Regions from separate parts of the Homo sapiens genome. Here region 2 is linked to region 1. Evidence: fine-mapped expression QTL. Tissue or cell type: whole blood. Region 1 holds a variant in brackets; the other region holds the start of a gene. All regions are shown on one strand. Distances are from middle to middle.

Region 1 (11,349 bases):
AGTAGAGACGGGGTTTCACCACGTTGGCCAGGCTGGTCTTGAACTCCTGACCTTGTGATCCACTCACCTCAGCCTCTCAAAGTGCTGGGATTACAGGTGTGAGCCATCATGCCCAGCCTCCCTGAGTCTTCAGTAACAATCTTGTTTGGCCTCTGGGCAGGCCAAGGAGGAGGAAAGTTACTTGGAGCTTCTCTACCCTGATTTTCAAGGAAGGGAAAACAGAACGAACCGTGAGCCAACAGGCCCTGTTTTCTTTCTCTTGGGAGAAGGCTGGCCTTGGGGAGATGTTCTAGGAAAGGTCACCTTTCCACTCCATGGTGCCAGGTAGGAAACCAGAAGGCCTTCCTTACAAACGAAGGGAACATTTCTTGCCAGATCTCTGGAGGAAAACTTGGAGGGAAAGGTTTGCTGCTATCCTGGAGAAGAAAGATAACAGTACTATCCAACCCCATCTGACCTCTGGAAGGCAAAGTCAGGCACATTATCTTTCAAGCCACGTGGGAAGGAAGGCAAGAGCTAGAGGAGAGACATGGAGGAGGCCCAGGGAGGGCAAGTGATTTTCCCAAAGCTACATAGCCAGCCTTAGACCCAGCTATGAGTTGAACCCACAGGACCTTCTCTGTCCATTAAACCACGGGGAAGGAGGACAGAAGCAGGGAAAACTGAGTCTGTTTGCAGGAAGAAGATTCAGAAAAGCAACTGGACTTACTAGAAAACGAAAGAAAAATTATCTTTCGAGGGGCACCACGGCTCCACCTGCGCAGAATGCAATTTGGCAATGAGGAGTCAGGGACTCAAATGTGTTCCTTTCCGTTAGCCCAGTAATTTAACAGCTGGGAATGCGTCCTAAGGCCTATGGCCAGGAAAACACTCATACAGAGATGCTGATCAGGGCATTAGTTCAATGGTAAAAGACTGGAGATGAGCCAAATGTCTGACAATAAGAAAGCTGTTAAGAAAATCAAGACAGTCACAACATGTTATAGGCCCAATCAGAGGGCCATTTGTGAGGGCTTTTTCATAACGGAGAAAAATATGAACATCAAGAAGTCAGGTGTAGAAAAACAGGATGTGAAATAATTTATGCTGAATAACAACAGCTATTTTAAAAAGGCATAGGAGAAAGATAGGAAGCAAATGGGCCAAAACGGTACTGCAGTGGCTTTTGTGGGATGGAACTGGGGAGAACTTGGGGAACTTGGGTTTTTTATTCTTCTTGTTGGCATTTTCTTTAATATATATGTATTGCTTGTTTTTTTTCCAGACAGGGTTTCACTCTTGTTGCCCAAGCTGGGTGCAATGATGCAATCTCAGCTCACTGCAACCTCTGCTTCCCGGGTTCAAGTGATTCTCCTGCCTCAGCCTCCCAAGTAACTGGGATTACAGGCGCGCACCACCACACCTGGCTAATTTTTTGTATTTTTAGTAAAAACAGGGTTTCACTATGTTAGCCACCTGAACTCCTGACCTCAGGTAATCCGCCCCCCTCTGCCTCCCAAAGTGCTGGGATTGCAGGTGTGAGCCACTGCACCCGGCCTGCTTTTTTCTTTAAAAATGAAAAATATTTTACACTTCTTTTCTGATTATAAAATCAGTAATCAGTATGGCCAGGCATGGTGGCACTTTGGGAGCCCGAGGCCGGTGGATCAATTGAGGTCAGGAGTTCAAGACCAGCCTGACCAACATGGTGAAACCCCGTCTCTACTAAAAATACAAAAATTAGCCAGGCTGTGGTGGCATATGCCTGTAATCCCAGCTACTTGGGAGGCTGAGGCATGAGAATCGCTTGAACCTGGGAGTCAGAGGTTGCAGTGAGCCCAGATCGTGCTACTGCACTCCAGCCTGGGCGATAGAACAAGACCTTGTCTCAAAAAACAAAAACAAAAACAAAAACAAAAAACAGTACATTCTGCTGGTAAAAAAATAAAAATACAAACAATATAGATATGTATGAGAGTAAAAAGTGAAAGAACCCCTGTAATTCCACTGCCCAGAGATAACCAGTGTTAATAGTTAATATTTTCTTAGTCATGCACACACACATAAAACACAGGCAGTGAGGTAAGTGGTCACATTCCTGTACCTATATACACATATACACATGGACACCCACATATACACGTACACAGAGTGAAGGGAAAATAGAATCTCAGGACCCCAAACTCACTATGCCAAAGGGAAAAGTTAAGCTTGGAAACTGAGTCACACCAAAAGCTGCCCTTTCTTTTTTTCTTTCTTTCTTTCTTTTTTTTTTCTTTTGAGACAGATTCTCACTCTGTTGCCCAGGCTAGAGTGCAGTGGCACAATGTCAGCTCAATGCAACCTCTGCCTCCTGGGTTCAAGCGATTCTCCTGCCTCAGCCTCCTGAGTAGCTGGTATTATAGGTGCCCACCACTATGCCTGGCTAATTTTCTTATTTTTAGTAGAAATGGGGTTTCACCATGTTGGGCAGGCTGGTTTCGAACTCCTGACCTCAGGTGATCCACCTGCCTCGGCCTCCCAAAACGCTGGGATTACAGGCGTGAGCCACCACACCTGGTCAAACTGCCTTTCTTTTTGTTTCTAAGCAGATAGCTACAAAATAGAAGACCGTGTCTCCGCTGGTGGCTTCCCTCACCCTGACCATGTACATTAACACCTTATCTTCACAGGTATAAGACAAAGACAAGACTAGAAATCACCCCTCCAGCCACCCAGAGACAAATGCAGATTTACTGAGCCGGCGACAGAGGCATAATTGCCTGTGCCTCCACCCTCTCCTTTCATAGGTAACACGTGGATTTGGTGAGCACTAATCAAAGCCTCACAGAAATGTGCCCCCTTATCTCACTGCCTACCCTCCTTTTTTTTTCCTTCCCCACTTTCCCTCCTGCCTGCTCTTTCTCCTTCTAATACTGAAGCCCTCAAAATCTTCTCTGAAAAAATTATGCGGCCACAGATCCCACTGTGGCATATGCCTCTTTTTTGGGGCACGTCCTCAGTCTTGTCAAAATAGACCTCTAAATATTGATGGAGACTTGCCTCAGACACTTTTCTGGGTTACAACACGCATACATACATATACACATACATACTACATATACACATCCGTATCTATACATGCACTTATGCACATATACACATACCTGTGTGTATATATATATACACACATGGACATGCATGTATGCACAAATACATACACATATATACATGTGTGTATATAGAACTACTGTTTTGGAACTTATTTTTTCATGTAACATGATATATCCATTTCTCCACATCAATTCATATAGATCAATCAGCCTCATCCCCTTTATATTTAACATTTTTTCTTTATTTAAAAAAACCTTTTTTTTTAGAGATGGGGTTTCACTATGTTGGCCGGGCTGGTCTCAAACTCCTGACCTCAAGCAAGCCTCCTACCTCAGGCTTCCAAAGTGCTGGAATTACAGGCGTGAGCCATTGCACCTGGCCAGACTCAATCTCTGTTTTTTTTGTTTGTTTGTTTGTTTTTTTTGAGATAAGCTCTCATTCTGTCACCCAGGCTGGACTGCAATAGCGTGAACACAGCTTACTGCAACCTTGACCTCCCCGGGCTCAAGTCATCCTCACCTCAGCTTCCCAAGTAGCTGGGAATATAGGCATGTACCACCAGGCCTGGCTAATTTTTGTATATTTTGTAGACATCGGATTTCACCATGTTGCCCAGGCTGGTCTTGAACTCCTGGGCTCACACAATCCACCCGCCTTGGCCTCCCAAATTGCTGAGATTACAGGTGTGAGCCACCGTGCCTGGCTGCCTCTTCCTTTCCTTTCCTTTCCTTCCTTCTTCCTCCCTTTATTTTTATTTATTTATTTATTTATTTATTTATTTATTTATTTATTTATTGAGATGGAGTTTTGCTCCTGTTGCCCAGGCTGGAGTGCAATGGCCCAATCTCGGCTCACCATAACCTCTACTCCCAGGTTCAAGCGATTCTCCTGCCTCAGCCTTCCGAGTAGCTGGGATTACAGGCATGAGCCACCACGCCCGGCCAATTTTTTTGTATTTTTAGTAGAGACAGGGTTTCTCCATGCTGGTCAGACTGGTCTCGAACTCCCGACCTCAGGTGATCCGCCCACCTTGGCCTCCCAAAGTGCTGGGATTACAGGTGTGAGCCACTGCGCCCAGCCCTTTTTTCTTTTCTTTCTTTTTTCTTTTTTTTTAACTTAAAGACTTCATTCTATTTGATGGCTGCTTAATTTCCACTGTAGGATGCAGAATTTTTTTTTGGTAACAAATCTCTTATCTCTGGATTTTTGTGCTGTTTCCAATTACTTTAATCATGACATATGACTCTGCAATGAACATATACCTCGGCACATGTGTTTTTCCTAGAAGTGTAATTGCTGGAGCAAACAGAAGGCATGTTTAATGCTTTTCCTCCACATTAATACATTCCTTTTAGAAGATTGTACAGGTATGAATTTGAAGGTAGTACTCATTTCCCCATATTTATGCAGCATTAGCATTTTATCTTTGCCAATGGTATAGGTGAGAAAATGTTTCATTGTTGGTTTAATTTGTGTCTCTTTAAAACTTGGTGAGACTCCTTTTCCATGATTACAGCCTATGTGGATTTCTTATTTTGTGAATTGCATTTATGTACATCTTTGGATGGTTATTTATTAGAACTGCATTGCCTTAATAATTGCAACAGTAATATAAATCTTAGTTTTTGTTTTTGTTTTTGTTTTTTTTGAGACAAGAGTCTCACTCTGTTGCCCAGGCTGGAGTGCAGTGGCACAATCTCAGCTCACTGCAACCTCCGCCTGCCTCCCAGTTTCAAGAAATTCTCCCACCTCGGCCTCTCGAATAGCTGGGATTACAGGCTTGTGCCACCATGCCCAGCTAATTTTTGTATTTTTAGTAGAGACGGGGTTTCACCATGTTGGCCAGGCTGGTCTCGAACTCCTGACATCAGGAGATCCACCTGCCTCAGCCTCCCAAAGTGCTGGGATTACAAGCATGAGCCACCATGCCTGGCCTAAATCTTAATTTAAAAAAAATATATATATACTTTTATATATACATATACCTTATATATATCTTTTATATATATACACCTTATATATATCTTTTATATATATATATCATATATATCATATATATATATATATCATATATATATATACTCTCACACACACATATACATATATCTTTACCCCATGATCTCCAATCTGAAGACAGAGAAATTTGCATGAAGGAGGCACACTCAGGGTGGTCTGAGGGCAGAGCCCTGGCGTGGGCAGTGGGAGTTCCTGCTCCAGGCCAGCTTTGCACCTCGCCTGCTGGGAGGGCTCAGGCAGAGCATCCACCTGGGCTTCTGGGAGCCTCTGCTTCCTTCTTCAAGGCCTGTGGCTTTCAAAATCTTAATATGGAATCCCACCATGATAGCCCAGTGTTTCTCAATCCTGGCTGCCCTTTTGAAAAACTGGAGGAACTTTAAAAATATATACCTCTTCTCAGTCCCCAGAGATACTGACTCAATGCCTGACTTAAAAAGCTGCTCAGGCGGGCAAAGTGGCTCACACGTGTAATCTCAACCCTTTAGGAGACTGAGGTAGGAGGATCGTTTGAGCCCAGTAGTTCAGGACCAGCCTGGGCAACATGGCGAGACCCTGTCTCTACATAAATAATAAAAAATATTAGCCGGGTGTGATGGTCCACGCCTATGATCCTAGCTATTCGGGAAGCTGAGGAGGGAGGATCGCTTGAGCCCAGGAGGTCAAGGCTGCAGTGAGCCAGATCGTGCCACTGTGTTCCAGCGTGGGCAACAGCAAAACTCTTGTCTCAAATAAATAAATAAAAAATAAAAAACAAAACAACAACAACAAAAGAAGAAAAAGGAGGAGGAGGAGAGAAAGAAAGAAGGAAGAAAAAGAGAAAGAAAATTAGAATGGGAAGAATTTCAGTTTTATAACTGTAACTGATTATTTTAAACGTATTTTTATTGTAAAAATAAAACCCGGATACAGAATCCAATGGTTCTGATGTACGGCTTAACTAATTACTACAAAGTGAACTGCCTCCGAGACCAAGAAAAAGAACTTTGCCAGCCACAGCAGAAGTCTCTCCACGCGCCCCACCCCAGTCACTCCTTCCTCTTCCATAAGTAGTCATCCTTATTCTGACTCACAGGACGCATTAATTGCGTTTTTAACAGCAAGTCCGCTGGAGGTGGGAGGCGCTCGGGGAAGCTTCTAGGGCCGTCAGGGCCCATTCCCTCCGCTAACACCCCTCTCTCCCCAACCCTCAGGTTGCGCAAGACCTCTCCAGCCCGGCGAACCCGTGGGGCTCAGCAGTCCTCCTCCACGCTCAAGATGCAGTTTGATGCA[A/G]TCCTAGAGGACGCAGTTTCAAGTTTCTCGAGATAGAGAAGCGAAAGAGGATCCGAAACCGCGCTTCACATCTGAATCTGATTTCAGATTCCTCCGGAATATAGCGGAAGCGCGGGGTTGAGGGCGCAGACCGGGGCAGAGGAGAGGCGCGCAGGTCTGCTGGGACGCAGCGCGGGGCGAGCAGTGGCGCACTCGTGGCCTGACGCATCCGCGAGACTGCACGCGGCCAGGCGGGGGCACGAACGGGTTGGGGCATGCGCGGGCAGCGTCGAGTGGGTCCCTTGGGGGTGGGGGTGGGGGGCAGTCGAACTAGGGAGAGAGTCTGTGGAAGGGCTCAGTTGTCACTTCACACCTTTCCCCGCTGTTTATTGATCTTTAACTCTCTCTGTGTGTCCTCTCTCTCTCTCTCTCTCCCTCTCCTCTCTCTGTTTCTCTCTCTCTATCCCTTCCTGTCCACCCTTTGGGGCCATCTCTTCCAAGAAACAACCGTCTCTCCCAGCCCATGGGAAATTGTCTCTCCTGCGAACTTATCCAACCTGAGGGGGTCTCATCCATGCCGATACCGGCTGCTTGTGGAACCTTGTAAGAGTTCTTCCCTCTCCCTGTAAAATGGAGATAAGCTGTGTGGTGCTGAGGCCAGCGCCGGGCACACTCACCCTCACCTTCTTCCTGAGAGAGGAAAGAGCCTGGAGACCTGGATTCTACCTCTGCCCCCAACCCCTACCACAGGGTAGCCCTGCCACCACCTGCTGGTTCTTTGGGCAAGTCACTCTTTTATTGGACTTCCATTTCCTCAGCTCTAAAATGAAGGAGGTGAGCCCAGTGTGGTGGCACCTGTAGTTCCAGCTACCTGCAGGCTGAGGCAGGAGGATCGTTTGAGCCCGGGGGGCAGAGGTTAGAGTGAGCGGAGATCTTGCCACTGCACCCCAGCCTGGGCAACAGAGCAAGACCCTGTCTTTAAAAAAAAAAGTGATTAAAAAATAAAAATAAAATGAAGGAGTTAAACAAACTCAGGAATTTTGTATGAATGGCATAAATGAGCACATTAGAAGGAAGCAACTTTCCTTCTCTCTTTTTTTCAATCCTGTACAGGCCAGCTTCCCCTCTGCCCTCTGCTCCCCTCCTCCCTCCCTACCATCCTCCAGCCCCCCAAAGCCCTCCCAATTTGAGCCTCCTTTTGGAAAACATCTCTGAGTATGGTACCGTTGGTATCGGTGACTAAGAGGCTCCAAGGATACCCTTCTGGGGGATTTCCAAAATAATGAGGAAGTCCATTTCCAAAATCATGGGAAGTCCCAACTGGGCCTCCCAGACAGTTGGCCACTGAGTCTGTCCCCTAAAGGATCTGCTTGACTTGCACAGTCTTAAAGGCATCATGTCTGGTTTTTAAACATAATTTCAGTTAGTAGCCAACAGTTCAGATCAAGGGATCACACGGCCTGTTTGACCTGTTCTTGCAGGGTCATGCATGCTCCACTGAGCCATGGGAAGTGTCCACACCCAGCCATGGGAGCCCTGTGGGATCTGAAACTGACATTTCTGCTTTAGGTGCCTTAAGCTGAAGAAATGCATAGTAGCGGGAATTGGAGTGCAAGTGAGTGCAGTAGGGGAAGTATTTTGCCATAAGAAACCCTAAGCCTCTATGGACAAGAAATTCTCCAGGGGCAGACTGGCCTTGACCCCAGAAATGTCACATTGGACTCGGCCTTGGTTTTCCTCATCTATACAATGGTCAATCAGACTAGTGGTTTGTTTTTTGTTTGTTTGTTTGTTTGTTTTCTCTGTCGCCCAGGCTGGAGTACAGTAGTGCAATCTCGGCTCACTGCAACCTCTGCCTCCTGGGTTCAAGCAATTATCCTGCCTCAGCCTCCCAAGTAGCTGGGACTACAGGTGCACGCCACCACATCCAGCTGATTTTTGTAATTTTAGTAGAGATGAGGTTTCACCATATTGGTCAGGCTGGTCTCAAACTCCTGACCTCAGGTGATTCACCTGCCTTGGCCTCTCAAAGTGCTGGGAATACAGGCGTGAGCTACCACACCGGGCTCAGATTTGTGATCTTTAAGGGTCCTGTGAACTCAGCACTCTAGACATTTTAGGGCCTGTGCACTTCCGCGGTAATGGTTTCTTGTTTTGTCCTCACTCGGAGGGCACACTCCTCAGGCTAGTGGCATGGGCCATTGTCCTAGAGTCCCTGGGGCCCGGCCCTACCATGAATTCTGCGTCTCTCCCTTCAGCCCTTGTCCCTCCCTCCGTGCCATGGCTTGGCACCGTTCTTGTCTTTGCAACCCTCCACAGGCGCCTCCTCCTCTGACCCTTCAAACCTTCCTGCCCTCAAACTCTGTCTCCCTACACCTCCCTGCCTTCCACTCTATGTTTCTGCCTTCTCCTTCAGCCCACAGATATTACTGACCATGGTTGCCAGCCCTATGTTAGGCCTGGGAATTCAAGAGAGAATTAGAGCCCTCTGTGGACTCCCAGCTCTACTAGGGAGAGAGACCCACAAATAGGGATAGAGAGGGGTAAATGCTTCAGTGGGTGAGTACAGGGCCTGCAAGGCCACTCAGCTCAGACTGAGGGGGTCAGAGAGAGCTTCCTGGAGGAGGCAGTATCTGAAGTGAGAAGCGGAGGGAAGTCCACCAGGCACACACAGCAGGTCGGCGAGAGTGCCGCAGGCTGAGGATGCGGCATATGTGAAGGCCCAAGGAAAAGCAGAGCACGCAGCATGCAGGCCCTGGAGGGGTGAGGCTGCACCTGGGGAGGTCTCATCCCAAGGCTGACAGCAGGTTTAGGGTCTGGAAACGCCACATGCCCTGCTGTCTCCCTGGCTGTTCAACTCCTTCCAGGCCTGACATTCACCAGCTCCTTGAAGACAAGATCATGCAGATACTTTTCAGCACACACATCTGGTCTCCCCGGCAAGTGCCCAGCTCTGGGCCTGTACCCTCCCAGCAGCACCACACAAGATGGCCGACCTGAGCTCATCAACTGCTCACTGGGGTCCCTCCCCTGACCCTAACCCTGCTTCAGTCACCCAGTAAGGGATCCCTGGCATGCAACATGTCCTTGGCTCCAGAGGGGTTAGATCCTTGGGGCTCCAGCAGGCAGAGCTGGAGCCTCGTGGCGTTTTGAGTACTCATAGGGACGGTTTGGGTTGTTGCAGGGATGTGGGAGGCACTGCTGGTGTTTGGGCCAGAGACCAGGACGGCCGAACATCCTGCAATGCTCAGAGCCGCCCTTTGGAACAACAACAACAAAAAAACTGTCCAAAGTATTCTGATTTTCAAATGTCCCTTCTGTAGCGTCCCCTAGTTTGTCCCACTTTCTTTCCGTGTCCTGACCGAAAATCTAGAGTGCCTTGACTGTTTCATGACCCAACCAGCTGCAGGGCTTCCCAGCAGGCTTGAACCCAAACCAGGGCCTCGAACATTCCCAGGCACTGATAAAGAAGTCTAGGTTATTGCCCAAAACCCTGAACAAAACTGGCCCCAGGCTTGAGCCCAATTCCTTAAAGCCTCAGAAAAATTCCACACCCTGACCTCATGGCTGTGGACACACCTAGGTGGACCTCCCTTTCTCTCCTGGCTGCCTGAGGATGTGCACGGCCCTGTGGAAGTGAGCTCCCCTAATAAAAGCCTGGACTCATCACCCCGGCGCTTCGTGCTTCTCTCTTTGGAATCCCAGCTGGCCCCCCTTCAGGATGATTCAGGCACTCCCTTGTGGGAACTCCTCTGCCACCACTTTTGGGGCAACCCTAGCTGAGGGCTGGGGGTGAGACAAGACACTTTCACATATTCGTGTCACTGAAAAACCAAACTCCATTTCACACCTAAACATGAGGTATTTTTGAATATTTTATTTTATTTTATTTTTTATTTATTTTATTGTATTTTTTGAGACGGAGTTTTGCTCTTGTTACCCAGGCTGGAGTGCAATTGCACAATCTCGGCTCACTGCAAACTCCGCCTCCCGGGTTCAAGCGATTCTCCTGCCTCAGCCTTCCAAGTAGCTGGGATTACAGGCATGCGCCACCACGCCTGACTAATTTTGTATTTCCAGTAGAGATGGGGTTTCACCATGTTGGTCAGGCTGGTCTTGAACTCCTGACCTCAGGTGATCCACCCACCTCGGCCTCCCAAAGTGCTGAGATTACAGGCACCCAGCCTATTTTTTATTTTTGAGACAGAGTCCCACTTTGTTGCCAGGCTGGAGTGCAGTGGCACAATCTCGGCTCGCTGCAACCTTCTCTTCCAGGGTTCAAGTGATTCTCGTGCCTCAGCCTCCCGAGTAGCTGGAACTACAGGCGTGCACCACCATGCCCAGCTAATTTTTGTATATTCAGTACAGGCGGGGTTTCACCATGTTGCCCAGTCTGGTCTTGAATTCCTGACCTCAGGTTATCCACCTGGCTCGACCTCCCAAAGTGCTGAGATTACAGGTGTGAGCCACTGCACCCAGCCTTTTTGCATATTTTAAAACATACTCTGAGAACACAAATGAATGGAAGATTGGACTTTGTTTTGTAGGGAACTTCGCCAAGAGTTTAACCATTTCAGAGAATCACAGCACTGATAGCGGCTTCTCTCCCAGGTTCAGGTCACCAAAACAGCATCCTCCACCATCGGCGTTGGTGGCTGGGTATCTGTGATGCTTCCCATGCAATGTGAGCAGCTGCCCACTGAGTCCCGGAGTCCTAAGACCCTTCCCTCACAATCCTAAGACAGTATTGCCTTTTCACTGTGATGGCATTGGTGACATAAAAGCCACTGTGGGCAGGGTGCAGCGGCTCGCACCTGTAATCCCAGCACTTTGGGAGGGTGAGGCGGGCAGATAGCTTGAGCCGCAGAGTTTGCCCAGACCAGCCTAGGCAACATGGCAAGACCCCGTCTCTACAAGTAATAATAATAATAATAATAATAATAATAATAAAATTATCTGGGCATGGTGGCACGCATCTATAGTCCCAGCTACATGGGAGGCTTAGGTGGGAGA
Region 2 (9,675 bases), 37 kb before region 1:
TTACAAATGCCACAAAGTTATTTTTTTGGAACTTCATGTAATAAAAAATAAAGCAATTAGTACTTTTGCAACAGCCAAAATCTTCATCCCAATCACTGTATTTATCATCATTGTTTTAAAGCCCTTAAAAAAAAAAAAAAAAAAGCCAGGTGCGGCGACTCACGCCTGTAATCCCAACACTTTGGGAGGCCGAGGCAGACAGATCACTTGAGGTCAGGAGTTTGAGACCAGCCTGGCTAACATGGCAAAACCCTTTCTCTACTAAAAATACAAAAATTAGCCAGGCATGGTGGCAGGTGCCTGCAATCCCAGCTATCAGCTACCTGGGAGGCTGAGGTATGAGAATCACTTAAACCCGGGAGGTGGAGGTTGCAGTGAGCTGAGATGGTGCCACTGCACTCCAGCCTGGGCAACAGAGTAAGACCCTGTCTCAAAAAAAAAAAAAAAAAAAAAAAAAGGCAAGCAGGGCAATGTAATTCTAATTAGTACTCTCTTTCATTGATCTGAAGAATATCCAGACCCTCCTTCCTGGTGGCAGAACCAAAAAGGAGCCAGAAAGCAAGGCTTACAGCCTGGTAGCCAGTAACCTAGAATCTCTGCTAGAAGCTGCCTCCAAAGCTGCCATGCACACCTGTCTAAGTGGCTTTGGTCTTGGCCTTGAGAACTTCCTAAGCATGCCTCATTAGGTGCTGTTCCCAGCCAGCAACACCCCGCCCTACCCTTCCACTTCCCCACAGCTGCCTGGACATCCCATGGTCTCACTCACCAAGAAAATGGAAGACCAAGTTCTCCTTTCCCTCATCTACAAAATGCCACACCAATCAATCCAACACACTTCAACTCTCATAGTTTGTTCTCAAAACAACCTGTCAGGGCCGGGTGCGGTGGCTCACACCTGTAATCCCAGCACTTTGGGAGGCCGAGGCAGGCGGATTACTTGAGGTCAGGAGTTCAAGACCAGCCTGGCCAACATGGTGAAACCCCATCTCTACTAAAATACAAAAAATTACCTCCCATTTACCCGAGTGTTCAGGGAAGAGGGTCCTTTGGTCAACTAAATATTGTGGTTAACCATAAGCCCATATATACCAGAGGTGGATTTTATAGGCATGGTGGTGGGCACCTATAATCCTAGCTACTCGGGAGGCAGAGGTGGGAAAATCGCTTGAACCCGGAAGGCGGAAGTGGCAGTGAGCCGAGATCGCGCCACTGCACACCAGCCTGGGGACAGAGCAAGACTCCCATCTCAATAACAACCTGTCAGGCTTCTCCCTTTCGGATGCCTCTCTCTCACAAGAGAGAGCTGCTCTCCTTTCTCCTTTCTTCTGCCTATTAAACTTTCTGCTCCAAAAAAAAAAAAAAGAAACAAAACAACCTGTCAAATGTACTTCAAGGACTTGACAAATCACTGATTTGTTAAAACAAACCCTTCTTTCTTCAGGAATTATACTCTTATTTTCACAGAATAAAACTGATTTACTATTAATAAACAGGAGATTTATCCAAAATCCCTGACAGGCCAAGACCTGAAGTTCCTACTGATATTCAGCAGGCCAGGCTATAAATTCACATGTTATTGAAAGAATATATATAACACCTTCTAGCATCCCCAGAAAACATAACTGTCTTAGCGTGGTGTAGACAACATTCAGCAGGCTAGCCACCACACAGCTGACAGCTATCAGGGCATCTAAGCTTCAGGGAGCACCTGCCACATCCCAGGCACCATCCCTCATGCCTTACACCTAGCTGATGAACACGCTCCTTTTTCCACCAGAGGACTCACCTAACAGCAATACCCTCCATGATCCCATTTGTAAAAGATCGAAACTGCAGCCTTCACATCTATGGTGTTCAAAGGTTAACAATGTTTCCTTCGGGGCAAGTGGGACAGGGCAGTGAATGGGTGAACAGGGGCCTCTGGATGCTACTGCACTGCTCCCCAACCTCGGGGGCTGCTCACTTTGTGGTAATTCATCAAGTTGTCTACTTAATCGTCCACGTATGTAACTTACACTAAGTTTTTAAAAGTTAAGAGGTCCATGTGGACAGAGGGATATGGAAAAAGCGAGCACTGTGGAGTCTTGGGTTCTGGTCCTGGCATCCCCAGTAAATGGTCTATGATTTGGGAGAGTCACCTCTGGGCACCTCCAGGTCTTCATTCCTTACAAAGGGGTCAGATTACATGCTCTCCAATTCTCTCATGGTGCCATGGCTTTGCTTTCGCTTTTAGGTGGGGAAAAAGGAGGGGCAGCTGGATGGGCAGAAAAGTAACTCAAAAGCAAGTGTCTCTACCACCAGGACATCACTGAAACACAAAATACAAAGCCCATCCCGATTCAGGGTGGCATTCTGTACTACGACAGTGTCACGAAGAAAGTTCTAAGTGCCTCTCGGGCAGCAGACAATGGCTGCAGTCACCAGGCACTTTCACTAACAAAACTCATTATCATGTCTAGAAATTTTAGGAGTAACATTTTCACAATATCACAAAGGGGCCAGAGCTGTGAAGGCCAGGGAGCATTCAAACACTGTTATCAGCACTGACTTTGGCCTAATCCTAAAGGTAGGACAGCAAAGTTAAACCAAGGCCATTACAATACCTCCCATTTACCCGAGTGTTCACGGAAGAGGGTCCCTTGGTTAACTAAATATTGTGGTTAACCATAAGCCCATATATACCAGAGGTGGATTTTATATTTCCCGAGACACGATTGAGTCCCTTTTGGGTGATGTGAATGAATCAGAACTCTTAAGGGTCTTGTGAGGAGTGACTCAACGTCAACAAGAACAATGGATAATGTAAAAAGAAAGAAAAAAAATTGCCCTGAATCAGTATAAAAAATTTAGAGACCAGCATTAGTTTATTATACAGACCATGGAATAACTGCAGTATAAGCTTGAGTATAAAATCAAAATGATTTTTTTATAAGCAGATCATCTTTCATTGTGTACAAGTAAAACAAATTTAAGAGCTTCGTATAGGGTCAAGATACATTCTTGAGAGCTGCTGAAAGCTAACTCATTTCTTCGGTTTTGCATCAACCCTGTCATCCACTTTGTTACTTTTTATTAAAATTTGGGTAGCTAGGTTAAAAATGGCAGCCAGCCCTTAAACTACATATAGTTACTAAAAAACAGACATTGTGGTGGGGGCTGGGTGCGGTGTCTCACGCCTGTAATCCCAGAACTTTGGGAGGCTGAGGCGGGAGAATGGCTTGAACCCGGAAGGCGGAGGTTGCAGTTAGCCGAGACTACGCCATTGCACCACTCCGGCCTGGGCAACAACAGCGAAACTCCGTCTCAAAAAACAAACAAACAAACAAAACAAACAAACAAAAAAAAAACGGCCAATAGCGTGCAAGACTTTCTTTTCTCTTTTTCTTTTTTTCACAGGTGGGGTCTTGCTATGTTGCCCAGGCTGGTCTCCAACTCCTAGGCTCAAGCGATCCTCCCACCTCGGTGTCCCAATGTGCTGGGATTACAGGCATAAGCCACCGCACCCAGATGCAAGACATTTCAAAGCAAGTGAAATGAGGACCCCATGGCAAAATAACTGGACCAGAAAACCCTATATCGCCTTCAATACCTATGAGAATTAAGCTCCGATTTTTTTTAGCTTGCCCAAATTCCTATCTAAGGGGTGTAGGAATCATACCCTACAAACCATAAACTCTCATCAGATGGGTTTTATTTGACCCCATATATCGTGACTTACTTTCCAATCTGACTCTGGCATAACATTTTATAAGACAAGGAAAAAAAAATCAAAATATCTAACCCCAAAATATATTTCCTTGCCATACCTTGAAATTGCCCTGCAAAGTCTCTTGTGGGAAAAATCCACATTCTATAGAGAATCCCCTTTCCCCTATGTTTTCCTTCCTTCCTCTCCAGATCCAGGAGATAATCAACTAAGAGCCAGTCACCCTTTCATTTCCATAGAAATATTTTACAACGTGCTCGCTCTCTTAGTCGGCTACCTGAGAGCTTCCTCTGCACAATAAAACTTGGTCTCCACAATCCTTTATCTTAACTTGAATACTTTCTTTCTATTGATTCTAGGTTTTCAGATAAACTCAACCAATTATCAACTAGAAAATGTTTAAATTTACCTATGGCCTGGAAGCCCCCCGCCGCTTTGAGTTGTTTCGCCCTTCTGAACCAAACCAACGTATTTCTTAAATGTATTTGATTGATGTCTCGTGCCTCCCGAAAATATGTAAAACCCAGCTGTATCCCAACCACCTTAGGCACATGTTCTCAGGACCTCCTGAGGGCTGTGTCACGGGCCATGGTCACTCATATTTGCCTCAGAATAAATCTCAAAATATTTTTACAGAGTTTGACTCGTTTTGTCAACACCTAGAATCCAGAGTAAATACATATGCAAACGTCAATATAGATGATACACATGTGCTTCCTGCAGCTTCGCTACCCTTACAAACAGGCAACTGAAGCCAACGGCCAAAGTGTCCTGCGGGACGGGGCTCCAGCCCACCTCGATCACGTGCGCCCAGCACAGGCACAACACAGCTGCCCAAGGGGTCACCCTACAAGACTCACCCACCCCCACAGTGGGAAGCGCAGCCTGAGGGAAGGCCTCGGGGCCCCAGCCGCGCAGGAACCCACTCGAGCCCCGAAGGAGATGCTGCCCAGGGCCTGGGCCGTCCTCCCGGGGGCATTTTCGCAGCCCGCCCCCCGCAGCCCCCAGCCGCCCAGAGAAAGCCAGAGAAAGCCAGCGAACGCGCCTGCGCAGTGCGCGCGCCCCCTTGCCAACTAGGGCAGGGGGAGCAGAGGGGCCAGGCCCGGCACAGCCCATTCTGGGGCAGATGGACGCTGCGAGGCACCTCCTCCCCAGGATGAGGGTCCCAGGGCTTACCCGCGCCCAGGAGGCTGGCCAGGAGGAAGAGGGCGTACATAGCGCCGTCTGACTCCGCAGTCTGCAATGCGGAGCGTCAGCTGATCCCCCGCAGATATAAATCTGCCCTGCCCCAAAGCCGTCCAGAGCGCAGGCGCTAACCCCGCCCCATCCGGGCCTGCCCGAGCTCAACAGCGCCCTGACTCAGCGCCTCTGAGGGCGCCTGCGCGAAGGGGAGGCCAATAGGAGGGGGCAATGGGAGGGGCGAAAGGAAGGGCTATGGGGAGGAGTGAGGAAGAACTTGGAGAAAGGGAAGGGAAAGGTCATAAAAGAAAAGCCCTACTAATTGAATAGGTCAGAGATTATATATGTAAAATACCTTTTAAATCTCCACATTGTTGGCCGGCCGCGGTGGCTGACGCCTGTAATCCCAACACTTGGGAGGCCGAGGCGGGCGGAGGGTTCAAGACTAGCCTGGGCAACGTGGTGAAACCCCATCTCTACAAAAAAAAAAATACAAAAAAATTAGCCCATTGTAGTAGCGGGTTTCACATAGAATAGCTTGGGGTTTCACATAGAATAAGTAGTCGTGTAACAGGGTACAGGGCTCAGTCCTGGCCAGGGGCACGTGGGGGCAGGTGGTGGCACCTGGTCAAAGGCAAGTCTGGGCTGGGCATGCTGGCTCACTCCTGTAATCCTAACACTTTGGGAGGCCGAGGCGGGCGGATCATGAGGTCAGGAGTTCAAGACCAGCCTGGCCAATATGGTGAAACCCTGTCTCTACTAAAAATACAAAAATTAGTCAGGCGTGGTGGCGCTCGCCTGTGGTTCCAGCTATTTCAGGAGGCAGAGGCAGGAAAATTGCTTAAACCCGGGAGGTGGAGGTTGCCGTGAGTCAAGATCGCACTACTGCACTGCAGCCTGGACCACAGAGCGAGAGAGATTCCCATCACCAAAAAAAAAAAAACAAAAAACTTTTAAGCCTCACATTGTGGTACCGTTAAAGATGTAATACCATTCCTCACCCATCATAAGAGATCATAAGAGTCACAACCAACACTCCTGTAACGAGACAGCTTAAGAGAAAAGCATAACAAATTTATGTAATCAACGTTTTATGTGACATGGAAGCCTTCAGAAATTAAGACCCAAAGACCCTCTGCCTGTGGCTGCCCCTGCCAGGACCTGAACAGAGAATGATGATGACCCTCTCCAGAAGGATAAGAACCTGCCAACCGCAAGGCAGGGAAAGGAGGGGAATCTTAGCCCCTTAGGGCAGGCACTTAGAGGTCATTTACCTGTAGGGACATTGAGCCTAGGAGAGGGCAAGACGTTTATCCAAGGTCACACAACAGGTAGAGATAGAACCTGGCCCGAAGCCAGGTTTCCTGACCCAGGAAGGGCAAACCTACAGTTCCTCCAACTTCCTCCAATCTGCAATCCGCTCTGGAGAACAACCCCAGGGACTAAGGCCTCAGAACCTTCAGTTCTGCTCCCCTGCAATCTCCCTAAGTGCCCCCAGCCCCCACCACAGCTCTGACTTCCTCTGGGGAGCCAGATGGGGAAGTGTGCCCCATGCACCACAGTGGGCCATGTGAGGCAGCTGAGTGAGTTGGGACAAGATGTGGTCTCAACTGGACGCCTCACAGGTCGGCCTCAGTGGCCAGATGGAGACTTCGTGGCTGCTCCACCTTTGGGCTTCCCAAGGCCAGGCAGAAGCGTGGGGCAGACCACACAACAACTGGTTAAAAGCAAGGGAGCTAGCCGGGCGCGGTGGCTCACGCCTGTAATCCCAGCACTTTGGGAGGCCGAGGCAGGCAGATCACGAGGTCAGGAGATCGAGACCATCCTGGCTAACAGGGTGAAACCCCGTCTCTACTAAAAATACAAAAAATTAGCCGCACGATGTGGCGGGCGCCTGTAGTCCCAGCTACTCGGGAGGCTGAGGCAGGAGAATGGCGTGAACCCGGGAGGCGGAGCTTGCAGTGAGCCGAGATCGTGCCACTGCACTCCAGCCTGGGCAACAACAGCGAAACTCCGTCTCAAAAAAAAAACAAACAAAAAAAGCAAGGGAGCTGGGGCTCTAGGACAAATCCCCCATCCTTCAGCTCCTTGCAGATGGAGGAGCAAAGCATCCCAGTGCTCCATGCAGAGGTTACAGGACCCCAAGCCAAAAGGACGCTCAGAGACCTCAGATCATCCCCTCTCATCTTATAGAGCTACTGACATCTCAGGGCTGGTTAACAACAGAGCCTGAACCAGGACTTGTTTTTTTTGTTTTGTTTTGTTTTGTTTTGTTTTGTTTTTTGTTTGGAGATGGAGGCTCACTCTATCACCCAGGCTGGAGTGCAATGGTGCGATCTCAGCTCACTGCCACTTCTACCTCCCAGGTTCAAGCAATTCTCCTGCCTCAGCCTCCAGAGTAGCTGGGATAACAGGTGCACGCCACCACACCTGGCTAGTTTTCTTGTATTTTTTGGTAGAGACAGGATTTCACCATGTTGACCAGGCTGGTCTCAAACTCTGACCTGAAGTGATCTGCCTGCCTTGGCCTCCCAAAGTGCTGGGATTACAGGTGTGAGCCACCACACCCCTCCTTTTTTTTTTTTTTAAATATTCCTCCTTCATACCTAGAGGAATATGTCAGTGTTTTTGAGAGAAACTTTTGCTGCCTTTCATCTCCTCACCTGTAACTCAACAGTAATATGCTGCTTCATCCGCCTCGTCCTGAACCCCATGAGGACAGAATTTTAACAAAGAATATAAAAGCAATAAGTAGATTATTATTAATTTTTTTACCTTGTCAGTAGACGCTTAAATCCTCTTAAAAAAAAAAAAAAAAAACCTTCTGAACCATCTGCGTGTAGGCAACAAGAGCTGTGAAGCTCCTCAAACCCTCTGGCTCTCTTATGCCTTTCCTAGCTATGTACCCTCAGGGAAATACTCCAGAAGTGAAGGAATATTTTGTCCGAAGTGTTCACAGAAGGGCCCTTTAGAAACATGGAAGCTGGAAAGATCCCAAGTGCTGAACAATGAAGAGATGACTGTGGAAACTGGCTGGACAGAGCAACGGTACTGAAGCAGCTTTGAAACAGGAGGAGGAGGGAGCAAGGGCTAGGCTGCAGCAAGTCTTCCAGGAACGTGGGTCCCAAGAAACATGGGCAGAGTGAGAGGCCAAACCCCATCTGCTAGTAAGCCCTGCTGCTGACTTCCCAGAGAGGATGGCAGAACTGGTGGAGAGCTTCTAGATCCTGGATCCCATCGGGCGCAGTGGCTCACACCTGTAATCCCAGCAATTTGGGAGGTCGAGGCGGGCAGACCACTTGAGGTCAGGAGATCGAGACCAGCCTGGCCAACATGGTGAAACCCCATCTCTACTAAAAATACAAAAATTAGCTGGGTGTATTGGCATGCGCCTGTAATCCTAGCTACCTGGGAGGCTAAGGTATGAGAATCGCTTGAACCCAGGAGGCAGAGGTTGCAGTGAGCTGAGATCGCACCATTGCACTGTAGCCTGGATGACAGAGCGAGACTCTCTCAAAAAAAAAAAAAACCCCAAAAACAAACAAAAAAAGATCCTGCAGCCTGCCGCACCCCAAAGAGAGGATGCACGGGCAGCCATGGCCCTCCACCCTGTCCCTCTCCCTCCCACAAGTGCAGGATTTCAGCCAGGAGGGGAACAGAGAATTGGAAGTAGGGGGGAAATTCTGACTTTGGATTAACTCATCTTGCATTATTTCACTCATGGAAATGTCCACATTGCAATTTTTAAAAAACAAAATTAATATAGGAAATTTTAAAAGAGAAAAGAAAATCCCTTCCACTACCACCCTCTGGGAGCTCAAGTCTTCAAGGAACTGAAAAGATATTTTTCCTTAGAAATGTGAGCCACGCTTAAGGTTTCTCAATGGCCTTCCAGTTCTGGATCTCAGTTCTGCATGAGGCCCCAATTTTCATGTCTGAGATCTCTTGAAATCCCCACCTGTCAGACCCTTTTAATAATTTTCCAGCCGGGCATGGTGGCTCATGCCTGTAATCCCAGCACTTTGGGAGGCCAAGGTGAGAGGATCACTTGAGCCCAGGAGTTGGAGACTATCCTGGGCAACATGACGAAACCCTGTCTTTACAAAAAAATGCAAAAATTAGCCAGGTGTGGCGACACAGGTCTGTGATCCCAGCTACTCCAGAGGCTATGGGACGGGAGGACGGCTTGAGCCCAAGAGGTTGAGGCTGCAGTGGTGCACCTCTGCTTGTCAGCCGGGGCAACGGAGCAAGACCCCATCTCAAATAATAATAATGATGTTCCCTGTGGCCCCAGATGGCCTCCATCTGTTACTTTTTCTACAACTGAAAGTTCCGGCCAAGACAGCCAAGGAGATAAGACATATCTACCATTGAGGCCCAGCCCACCTGCTTGGCCCCAAGGCTCCACTCCAGTGCCCTAAACAGCAACCCTGGAGCCCCCTAATGCCCTGGAAGCCTCCCTTGACCCCTCACCCTGTCTCAAACAATGACAGGTTCTCTCCCTCCAGCATCTTCCTACTCGAGACCTCTGGCTTCAGACCCTCTAGCCTGCACTTGTCCTTGTGCCTGGAATGAGACCTCAGGTGTCACTCAAGGCAGGCTCAGGCTGTCCCAGGGACACCTCTCCCATCACCCACCAATTCCCAACCTCTGACTTCTCCTCCTATACCCCCACCTCCCCTGGACTGATGGAGCACTCAACAGTGCAGCCAAGCTCACCAAGCCCTCTGTGCTTCTCAGCACCTATTTAGCCTCCCCTGTGGCAGAGTCTGCTACACCCTCTAATATCA

What was found. PIP is the estimated chance that this variant, and not a neighbour inherited with it, causes the effect.
Region 2: PSAP starts here. The variant in region 1 is fine-mapped to the expression of PSAP in whole blood (TOPMed, PIP 0.94).

Annotation. Positions count from the first base shown.
Region 1 is chr10:71,882,571-71,893,919 of GRCh38, forward strand. No RefSeq gene overlaps it. Among named protein-coding and RNA genes, the nearest start is that of LINC03139, 10 kb to the left of the region's middle. RefSeq lists a silencer at 6,508-6,597. The variant A/G (reference allele first, on the strand shown) is at 6,358.
Region 2 is chr10:71,846,300-71,855,974 of GRCh38, forward strand. It overlaps PSAP (prosaposin), which reads right to left and starts at 4,952. Exons shown (of 14, transcript NM_002778.4): 1 at 4,883-4,952. The coding sequence starts at 4,922. RefSeq lists enhancers at 3,211-3,710, 4,102-4,632, 4,633-5,163.